3 linked regions of the Homo sapiens genome follow. The protein of the gene in region 1 interacts with the protein of each later gene in a biochemical or structural test. Each region holds a gene or a part of one and is shown in the gene's direction. Other genes may lie near its edges. The genes, in order: CCP110, CETN1 and NEURL4.

What was found.
Region 2: the proteins of CCP110 (region 1) and CETN1 form a complex in vitro, tested with the Homo sapiens proteins (one study listed by BioGRID).
Region 3: the proteins of CCP110 (region 1) and NEURL4 form a complex in vitro, tested with the Homo sapiens proteins (one study listed by IntAct).

Annotation. Positions count from the first base shown.
Region 1 is NC_000016.10:19,530,414-19,534,064, forward strand, and holds part of CCP110 (centriolar coiled-coil protein of 110 kDa), read left to right. Parts: intron 1-2,002; coding exon 2,003-2,131; intron 2,132-3,651.
Region 2 is NC_000018.10:578,773-582,523, forward strand, and holds CETN1 (centrin-1), read left to right. Parts: upstream 1-1,607; 5' UTR 1,608-1,636; coding exon 1,637-2,155; 3' UTR 2,156-3,342; downstream 3,343-3,751. UniProt on the Homo sapiens protein: Plays a fundamental role in microtubule-organizing center structure and function. Plays a role in sperm cilia formation.
Region 3 is NC_000017.11:7,322,747-7,326,397, reverse strand, and holds part of NEURL4 (neuralized-like protein 4), read left to right. Parts: intron 1-54; coding exon 55-143; intron 144-684; coding exon 685-757; intron 758-924; coding exon 925-1,189; intron 1,190-1,417; coding exon 1,418-1,599; intron 1,600-1,917; coding exon 1,918-2,003; intron 2,004-2,127; coding exon 2,128-2,290; intron 2,291-2,385; coding exon 2,386-2,584; intron 2,585-2,674; coding exon 2,675-2,751; intron 2,752-2,834; coding exon 2,835-2,913; intron 2,914-3,274; coding exon 3,275-3,450; intron 3,451-3,531; coding exon 3,532-3,651. UniProt on the Homo sapiens protein: Promotes CCP110 ubiquitination and proteasome-dependent degradation. By counteracting accumulation of CP110, maintains normal centriolar homeostasis and preventing formation of ectopic microtubular organizing centers.

The DNA of each region.
Region 1 (3,651 bases):
ATGCCTGTAATCCCAGCACTTTGGGAGGCTGAGACCAGCCTGGCCAACATGACGAAACCCCGTCTCTACTAAAAATACAAAAATTAGCTGGGCGTGGTGGTGGATGCCTGTAATCCCAGCTATGTGGGAGGCTGAGGCAGGAGGATCCCTTGAACCCAGGAGGCGAAGGTTGCAGTGAGCCAAGATCCACTGAACCCAGTAGGCAAAGGTAGTGAGCCGAGATCGAGCCACTGCACAACAGCCTGGGCAACAGAGTGAGACCCTCTCTCAAAAAAAAAAAATGTAATCCCAGCACTTTGGGAGCCCGAGATGGGTGTATCACTTGAGGTCAGGAGTTCGAGACCAGCCTGGCCAACATGGCGAAACCCCTTGTCTACTAAAAATATAAAAATTAGCTAGGCATGATGGTGGGTGCCTGTAATCCCAGCTGTGCGTTAGGCCGAGGCAGGAGAATCGCTTGAACCCAGGAGGGATCGGGATCGCACCACTGTACTCCAACCTGAGACTCCATCTCAAAAAAAAAAGGAATTCTTTGGAGATGATGCCCTGCACTTCATACTAAATTAAATCAGAAGTTACATAATGTTTAGTTGCCCTCTATTAGTGATGTTTAGTTTGAACACTTGCTTACAGTAGTGACTGCCAGATGGCTCTTTAAAGTACACATTTTCTCCTTTTGATTAGCAAGTAAATTGTATAATCATTCTTTGGTACCATGCAATTAGGAAAAAGTTTTAAAACAACATATTTATCAGCTATTTGATAACACATTGCTTGATTTAATGTGGACCAAAATGTCTGAGGCTTGTTGTGTAGGGTCTATGACTCCGTCTGTTATTTATTTATAAGCAAAATGTGATGTTTATGGACCTAATCCACACTTTTATGTTGTATTTGATAGGTGAATATTGCAACTTTTGAAATAATTTTTTAATGATATATTTTCTATTTGTGTAAGTCTACGATAAGTCTTGACTGTTAACAGTGATTTAATTTCCCAGGACTTAATAATTAAGATTGAAATCCATTATAAAGAGATACAATGCTTAGAAGCCTTCCATTTTTTAGGTACATTATATTTTTATCAGAAGGTAGAGTGAGGTGAAAGAAAAGATGTATTCTGCTTTTGTAGGCAAATAATATATTATCTGTTTATTTTATCATTAAACCTTTGGACATTTTTTGAGGCAGCAAAGAGTTAAATTGTGCACTGGTTAGAAAATTAAAAGTTGTAGAATCCAGTTGATCCAGTGAAATAAGATACTGAAGATGGGCCAGGCGCGGTGGCTCGCGCCTGTAATCCCAGCACTTTGGGAGGCCGAGGTGGGCAGATCACAAAGTCAGGAGTTCGAGACCAGCCTGACCAACATGGTGAAACCCCATCTCTACTAAAAATACAAAAATTAGCTGGGCGTGGTGGCACGCGCCTGTAAGCCCATCTACTCCGGAGGCTGAGGCAGGAGAATCGCTTGAACCCAGGAGGCGGAGGTTGCAGTGAGCCGAGATCGCACCACTGCACTCCAGCCTAGGTGACAGAGCAAGACTCCATCTCAAAAAAAAAAAAAAAAGGATACTGAATGTGAAGTAATATTCAAGTCAATATTCAAGTGAAGTAATAAAAAACTCAGCAGTGGCCAAAAGGGCCTTAATTTTATTTCTGTCATTTTAGAACATTTGATTAGTGAACAAACTTTTTTCTTTTTAACCTTTTAACTGAAAATAATTTACACATAGCAAAATGCACAAATCTTAAGTGTTAAAGTTCCATGAGTTTTGATATATGGCATACACATGTATAACTCACACCCACACAGGATTTTCTTCACCATGGAAAGATCTCTAATGCCCCATCCCACTCAGTACCCAGACCATTGTTCTGATTTCTTTCACTATACATTAGTTTTGCCTGTTGCACATGTTTTTAATCTTTCTGATTCACAACTTCCCGATTTTATGATATTTTTATCGTGGGAAATAATTACATTTTTATGATGTTTTGCAGCTTAACATTGAGAAAAGAAAGGAAATGCAACAAGAAAAGCAGAAAGCACTTGATGTAGAAGCAAGAAAGCAGGTTAACAGGAAGAAAGCTTTACTGACTCGTGTCCAGGAGATTCTTGACAATGTTCAGGTGTGTGATTTTAGCTGTTTCAGTTATAATAAAGAAATCATAAGATAAGCGTTGATGATAATTTTTCTGAAATATATTTGCACTTAACTAATTACTAATGTACTTTACTGTTACGTTTGAGAAGCTTCATAATTTGTGATTTTCCATTTCAGTTACTCCAAAGAGAATGTACTTGCTTGTTAGTAATGCCCAGTACTTGAATCAGAGGATATTTACACAATAGAACCATACACTGAATATAATTGCTTATTGTTTGCATCTTATGACTCTAAAAACATTGAATTCTCAGTGACAAAATGACAGAATTGGGTATTATTGTTTACCCCAAACTAATTAGACTATTGACTAAATGACCTTATTCTCATTCTTTGCTTAAGTAAATAACTGCCTCCAATTTTTTTTTGGTGAAAACTCTTAGATACACAAAATGCAGTTTAGATAACATTGAATTGTTTAGATGCATCCTATGTCTAAAAACTATTTAAACAACACATCTACACCTTGTGCAGTTATTTTTAGATTTGTATAAACAATTTGTTCTGACATGTGGATCATTTTGTACTAAAAAGAAAAACAAATGAATTAGATTGAACGAATAATTTCTACAACATATAGCAGTGTTCTGCTGGTAACATCTTTTTGTTTTTTCATAATCTTAGGAGTTTGTGGTTTGTCTGTTTAATTCGTATCGATGACACGTGTATAATGAACCTTAAGGGTTCATTTCTCTGTTGGTAGTGTAAACTGAAGAAAATGACTGAGGCAAGTCTCAATCGATTTAGAGGTTTGTTTTGCCAAGGTTGAGGATGTGCCAAGGAAAAAGAGACAAAAGTTACAGTAGAATCTGTGGCTTATGCTTTTCCAGAAGAGGTTTTGAGGACTTCAGTGTATAAAGGGGAGAGAACAGCAGGAGGGGAAAGAGGAAAGAAAAAAAAAGGAGGGTAGGTAATGAGATAAGCGATCACATTTTTGTGAGGCTTTGATTAGCACTCACTGAATCCACAAGTCGCATGAGAAAGGTGGGGGTAGAGGAACAGTCAGTTATGCATTCATCTCAAGCTCAATAAATCTGCATTTTACATAGGATAAAGTAAGCAGAGTAGAGGAAGAAGTCAAATATACATTTGTCTCCAAAGGGATGATTTCTAGTCATCTTTGGTCTTTGTCCGTATCTTGTCAGAGTGAAATTCAGCAGAACTCTGGGTTGGTGTAAAGATTTTGGGGCCTACGAGGAATTTCCTTGTGAGCAATTTGCAAGAGAGTCTACCTGGGTAGATAGGTGGCCTTCTATTTTGCAGCTATCTGTTTAGGAATAAAAGGAAGGCAGTTTTTGTGTGACTCAGTTCCTAAGCTTTACTTTTTCCTTTGACATGTGATTTTCCATTTCAGTTACTCGAAATCCCTATGTAATGAGTCTTCAGAATCTGATGAAAAAGTCAAAGGAATATATAGAAAGAGAACAATCTAGACGCAGGCTGAGAGGTAGTATTAAGAGAATTGTTAATGAGAGTCATAGTGAC
Region 2 (3,751 bases), on another chromosome or scaffold:
GAGACAGGGTTTCACCTTGTTGGCCAGGCTGGTCTTGAACTCCTGACCTCAGGTGATCCTCCCGCCTTGGCCTCCCAAATTACTGGGATTACAGGTGTGACCCACTGCACCCAGCCATAAAACTCTTTAACACAAACTCTTCAAAGTGACATCTTTTGTAACCTTCATAGGTTACAAAAGGTATTGATATATTAATAGATTGAGATTTGATTGCGGGGGGGCGGGGCAGGGGGAGAATGCTAAAAAAATAAGTCAGCTTTCTTTTCTGTAACTATTTAAAAGAATGCAAAGTAATTCTACAGGCAATTCCTTGGTGGGCTTATTTGGTAATTTTTTTTTTCTTTTCCATTTTCCTCTTGCTCTTTGGTTTGTAGGAGAACCGCTTTATTCCCAGGAGGCAATTTTGAGTCCCAACATGTCCTGCATCATCTCCTGTGCCCATTGCCAAAGGAAGGCGACCAGAGCGTGGGTTTCAGCACAGCTCTGATTGGATGATAAGCAAGGAGAGTAATGTGCTGCTAGGAGGTTAGAGAAAAGAAAATACTAGAATATACCAGAATGTAGTATTTCCACTTCCCTCCCTCCAAATCAAAAGCCTCATGAATGAAATTATGACCATTATTCAAGTGCAATTATACTGAGTATGTAAAATGGAAACACTGAAAGTAAATCATACATTTGGATATTACATTTCATATTTGAGAACATGCCAGAAACATTGTATTATTGTTGAGTGTAATGTCAGGAGACAAACTTCTACGCATTTTATACATAAATTTTTCCATTTTCTCTGTTTCCCATTTATGTCAAGTTGAACACATGGTATGACTTTTAATATTCTCTCTTCCTTCTCCTTCCCCACATTGAATGTCAAGTGATCACACTCAATCTTGATTATCCTAAATTTACCCTTAGGACCTGTCACCTCATTGGGTGTTGCCGCTAGAACAAGAGGGTTTTTTAAATGGTATAAAAAGGAGAGGCCCGGCTTGGTAGCTCATGCCTGTAATTCTAGCACTTTGGGAGGCTGGGGCGGGAAATCCCTTGATCCCAGGAGTTTCAGACCAGCCTGGGCAACATGGTGAGACTCTGTCTCTATAAAAAAAAAAATTTTTTTTTTTAATTTAGCTGGGTGTGGTGGCATGCCCTGTAGTCTCAGCTACTATGGAGGCTGAGGTGGGAGGATCACTTGATCCTGGAAGGTGGAGGCTGCAGTAAGCTGAGTGGCACCAGTGCACTCCTGTCAAAAGAGAGAGAGGAGAGAGAGAGAGAGAGAGAGGAAGAGTCCCTAAAGAAACCTATAAAACTGGGGTCTTATGGATGCTAGCACATATCTTGGAAAGAACTGCCAGCGCCAGTGGATTACAGAAGACAACTGTGGCTACAGGCTGTTCTTGCCAGCTCAGGCGTCAACTCGTGGAAACCGGTTAATGACCCGAGGGGACAGCGGATTCTCGCCTAAGCAAGATCCCGCAGATGGGAGGGCGTAGGAAGAGGTTCCCCGGGCCGGCTCCAGGCCCCAGCGGGCGTGGGCGTTGGCAGTGAGCGAGGGGTGGTCCCGCGCCGCGCCGGCGGGGGGCGCCCGAATGAGAGCGCGGGGCGGTGCCGTTGGGACCACGGCGGCCAGAGCGGCAGGATGGCTTCCGGCTTCAAGAAGCCCAGCGCTGCCTCCACCGGCCAAAAGAGAAAGGTGGCACCTAAGCCCGAGCTCACTGAGGATCAGAAGCAAGAAGTTCGGGAAGCATTTGACCTCTTCGACGTGGACGGAAGTGGGACCATCGACGCGAAGGAGCTGAAGGTGGCCATGAGAGCGCTGGGCTTCGAACCCAGGAAGGAAGAGATGAAGAAAATGATCTCCGAGGTGGACAGGGAAGGCACGGGGAAGATCAGCTTCAATGACTTCCTGGCCGTGATGACGCAGAAGATGTCCGAGAAGGACACCAAAGAAGAAATCCTGAAGGCCTTCAGGCTCTTTGATGACGATGAGACCGGGAAGATCTCGTTCAAAAACCTGAAGCGTGTGGCCAACGAGCTGGGGGAGAACCTCACGGATGAGGAGCTGCAGGAGATGATCGACGAAGCTGATCGGGATGGGGACGGCGAAGTGAACGAGGAGGAGTTCCTTCGGATCATGAAGAAGACCAGCCTTTACTGAAGTCGGTTCAGAAGCTAAAGTGACTCTCTGGGTTGCCTGCTTCCATTTTGTGAAACCTTAGAGGACAGCGGCTGCCTGTCCCTTCTTCACCCCCTCACCCCCATAATTTGTCTAGATCTATTTCCATATCTCTAGTTCAATAATAGAATTTGAAAGATGCTTGTAATGTGAGTTTTGGGTTTTAATTCTCAAGAGTCAACCTGGAGCACATGAGGTTAAACAAAGGGCCCTGAAGTTTGAGTGCGCCCTCCATTTGCCCTGTGCTGAACTTGCTGTTCATCTGTTGATCTGGAGGCAGGACAGCTTCTGGGACACACAAAAATGTGGTTCCCTTTGTCACTTCTTTGGTGGTCTTAAATTATCTTGCTTCATATATCATTCCTTAAATTCCAGTCATTGTTCCAGCATAATGAGATGGAATCTGCCAGTAGATTTGCCTAGCCTGTCCACTTAGCTGAATACCAGTTTGAAGGAAAACAGGGTGGCCACTTACAAACTTACGGAGCTCAGGACAGATAATCTTATAAAGAATAGACTTGCTTGGGTGGTAGTACGTTGTGCAATTTTGACTATTCACTGGCTTTATACCTGCAAATGATTCTTCGTTCATGTGTAAATTGTCCACCATGGGTTTATCTAGGGCTAGTATGTATACCTGGGCTACAGAATAAAAATAAAATCTAATACTGGCCCAAGCAAAGTATAATTTGCTTAAGAGGTTACGCTAACAAACGATTTTGAGTAAATATTTACAAATGTAGGATCTTAGTTTAGGAAATTATAACAAATACCTTAATATAACATTTTAAGCTACTTATAGTCCTTGGAAATAGCAACAAATATCTTAGTTATTGGACTATTATAACCTTAGTCATCTTATTACTGCTTGATTATGAGACACTCTCCCTGCTAATCCTTAGAACATCTTGGTTCTTGGTACTTGACTTTTAGCCCCTCTGACATATAGTTGATGTCAGAGTGTCTGGCATTTCAGTAGTGCTCTATTTTACAAATCCCAGTAAACTGCTCCACTGTGGCTTGTTTATGTGTTAATACTGCTTGTTTTCTGTTATAAATTATTTTTTGCTTTGGAGTAAGATATCATCATTTTGCATAGCTACAAATCTGAAGTTAAAGAAAATTTTAAAAATGTAATTGTGGGAAAATAACAAATAGATCTGCTGAGATGGAGGCTTTGACTAATGTTTTAATAACAGGCAACAAAACAAAGAGGCAGGATATTTTGGTCACAACTAAACCTAAATTAAATCCTCATACAAAGCCCCATTAAGATAAATGCTCAAATTCTGGGAACATTTCACTTGCTTTGCCAGCAATTTTACCCTTCAGAGGGTGTGGATCTAATCAGGGGAACAAACTACCCTGGGCTTAATTCTCATTAACAGGGACTAATTTGTCAAAGCGGCAGTACTAGCTGAAGTGATGGGTATGGAAGCATTCACTGTGAGGATTTTGCTGAGGTGCCTGGCACAGGGTAGGGGAACTCACCCAGGCTGCAAGATGCTAACAGTTCAGGTTCAAGGTCTTAGTGTGGACTAAGGTGCAGTCAGGATGGGAACAGGTGCAACTTGGGCC
Region 3 (3,651 bases), on another chromosome or scaffold:
TTGCTGAGGGGAAGGAAGCCCCGTACCCGAACCCAAGTGTCCACTATCACCCAGGCACCATCATGATGAGCGGCTGTGGAATCCTGACCAATGGCAAGGGCACCCGCCGGGAGTACTGCGAATTCAGTCTGGATGAGTTGCAGGTGAGGGTGGGGCACAGATCCCTGGGCCGCTTTCAGCAGAGCCACAGGTACTCTGTGTCCCTGCCAGGGCACCAAGCAGGGTCTCCTATGTGACCTAGAGGCAGTCCCTGTATCTTCCACCTAAAGGTTCCTTCCTAGAAGCCTGAGTTGCCCAAGAGTTCAGCACTCAGATTTTGGAGTCAGATGGTTGAATTCCTCTTACTGTTTTCCCATTTGTAGTAGCGAACCGGGGCAAGAAGCTTATCCTCTTTGATTGCTCCCCCACCTCCTGCAATCTCTAAAATGAGCCTACGAGTAGTACTTATTCCATAGGCTGAGACTTGTAGAAGCTAATGTCTGTGAGGTGGTTTAACTCAGTGCCTGACTCACGTGGAGCATTGACGAAATGTGGAAATTGTCATGTCTGGAAAACAAGGACCCAGGACCTGTCCTCCAGGGTGGTCTGAGACTCTCACGAATACCTTCTGGAGTTGTTCCTGTGTGGAGTGGGGTGCTGAGCAGGCCTCAGGACTCCTCTAAACTGTTTGTCTTCTTTGATTAGGAGGGTGACCACATTGGCCTCACAAGGAAGTCCAACTCTGCCCTACACTTCTTCATTAATGGTATCGATCAGGGTAAGGGCCGCCCAGAGAGAGCCTCTGGGCCGGGGCTTTCGGTGGGGCTGGGACTGGGGGCTGTACCTCATCCTCCTGCTTCTCTTTGGTGCTTGGCCTCCCTGTGTTTGACTTTCTCCCCTCATTCTCCCTGTCCACTCCCACACCCCCGTACCTTCCTGCCACAGGAGTGGCAACCCCCTTGACGCCCCCAGTGGTGTATGGTGTGGTGGACTTGTACGGGATGGCAGTGAAGGTGACCATCGTCCACAATAACAACCACAGTGACCGTCTCCGCCGAAACAACGCCATCCTGCGGGCGCTGTCCCCCGAGGGTGCTCTCCGCCGTGCTGCCCCTGCCGCCCAGGCAGAACCTGAGCGCCTGCTCTTCCACCCCAACTGTGGGCAGAAGGCAGCCATCACCCACGAGGGACGCACTGCCCTGAGGCCCCAGTATGGCCCATGGGGTGGGGAGAAGCCTGAAGAAGGGATTCTAATGGGGGGGGGGGGGCGGGGCAAGGAAGTGGAAGGCAGAGGGAGCCTGGCGGGGGCAGCTTCCTGGAGGTTGAGCTTTAGTTCTTTGGCTTGGGGCAGTGAGTGTTGGCAGGCATTGCTGGGCTAAGCCTTGGCACATTGAGAGCGTGTGTTGGGGATCTGACTCTCCACTTGCTGTGCCCTCAGTGCCACCGATGACTTCAATCACGGCGTGGTGCTGAGCAGCAGAGCCCTGCGGGATGGAGAGGTGTTCCAGGTGCGCATCGACAAGATGGTGGACAAATGGGCTGGCTCCATTGAAATTGGTGTCACCACCCACAACCCTGCCTACCTCCAGTTGCCCTCCACCATGACCAACTTGCGCTCTGGTGAGCTCCCAGGAAGGGCAGGGACAGGATAGGGTTTTGGGGGGAAGCTATCCCCAAAGCCCTGGCACTTGTTCTGCAGCTCCTTTTTCACTTGTCACTCTTGTGACCACTCATTCAGTGGCTAGAGAGTGTCCCGTGGGCAGGGCTGTGGCTGTCTTGGAAGCTGCAGAGTTTTCTTGTCCTGCTCAGGGAAGAAATCTAGTCATCAAAGAAAAGGCAAGGTGGACTGTGGGCTCGGGAGTCCTGTGGGCGCTGCTGTGGCAAGGAGAGGAGCCCTGCATTTCCCCTCATGTCCCCTCCTGCTCCTTGTCCTCCCAGGGACCTGGATGATGACTGGGAATGGGGTGATGCACAATGGGACGACCATCCTGGATGAATACGGGCACAATCTGGACCGCCTCAAGGTGGGAAAGTGGGTGCGCCGCCTGGCGGCCGCAGCGGGCATCACAAACACCGCGGGGCTGATGCAGGACCAGCCCCGGCAGGAACTCTGCCTGACTCCTCACTCCAGCACCCCCTTCTTCCAAGGCAGGGGACACGGTGGGCGTGGTACGGCGGGAGGACGGGACTCTCCACTTCTTTGTCAATGGGATGACTCAGGGCCCTGCTGCCTGGAACGTGCCCCCGGGCGTCTATGCTGTCGTCGATCTCTATGGCCAGGCGGCCCAGGCCACCATTGTGGACGACGTGGGTGAGGGCCGGGCTGGGCTGGGGCTGGGGGTTAGGGTGGCCTTGGGAGGTCTGAGAGACACCTAGAGACCTGATGGGTGATGTCCACTTTTACAGAGGTGGCTCCAGTTCCTGAACCACTCCCTGAGGGGAACAACCAGGTGTCTCCAAGCTCTCCGTCCTCAGGGGCCGGGGGCTCTGACCTGCGCTTCCATCAGCTGCACGGCAGTAACGCAGTCATCACTAACGGGGGCCGCACCGCCCTCCGCCACAACTGTCGCAGCGAGTTTAATGACGCCATCGTCATCTCCAACCGGTCAGTCTCTCAACTTTCATGTCCCCACCTTCCTCCTGCCCAGCCTCAGCCATGCAAGTAGAGCCTCTCTGATCGCCAGTCTCCTGGCAGGGCCCTGCGGGATGGAGAGCTGTTTGAAATTGTCATTCAGAAGATGGTGGACCGCTGGTCAGGCTCCATTGAGGCTGGTGAGGGCCGTCTGTGTGTGTTGGGGGCTGTTGGATGTCTGTGCCTTGGGGATCGGCCTTGACTTACCCCTGCCTCCTCCCAGGAGTGACTGCTATTCGGCCTGAAGACCTGGAATTCCCCAACACCATGACAGACATTGACTATGACACATGGATGCTGAGGTTGGGCTTCCTGCTTTGGGGACCAGCTTGGGGCTGAGTGGAGCTGGCTGGGATCAGGGAAGCAAGGTTTGGGCCTATGGTGGCTGTGGGTAGTGACAGACCTAGGGGATCTACCTGTCCCCTCCCCTTGAATTCTGGGAAGTCCTGCCCAGGCCCACAGGGGCTCAGTCCTCCTTCATCTTAGGCAGTTCTTGCTTTTTCCTAAGGGGATCCCAGGGACAGAGGAGATAGGATTGGGCCTTACACCCAGATCAAGACACCAGCCCAAGACATTGGAGGGTTCTGACAGACAGGGAGTGGGCAGGGGCCAATGTGAAGTTGAAGTTGGCAGGCTGACTCACCCCTTCTGCCATCCCCCCAGTGGTACAGCCATCATGCAAGACGGTAACACGATGCGCAACAATTATGGGTGTGACCTGGATGCGCTGGGCACAGGTGCACGCATTGGCATGATGCGAACTGCCAAGGGCGACCTGCACTACTTCATCAACGGCCAGGACCAAGGCGCTGCCTGCTCGGGCCTGCCTCCGGGTAAAGGTGACTATGTGGCTTTCAGCCTGCCACCCTCAGCCCAGACCACCTGGCTGTCAGGCTTCTGACCTTCCCTCTCCTCCCCAGAGGTGTATGCGGTAGTCGATCTCTATGGCCAGTGTGTCCAAGTGTCCATCACCAATGCCACCGGCCCCATGGACAACAGCCTGGCGACCAGCAACACTGCCACCGAGAAGTCCTTCCCAC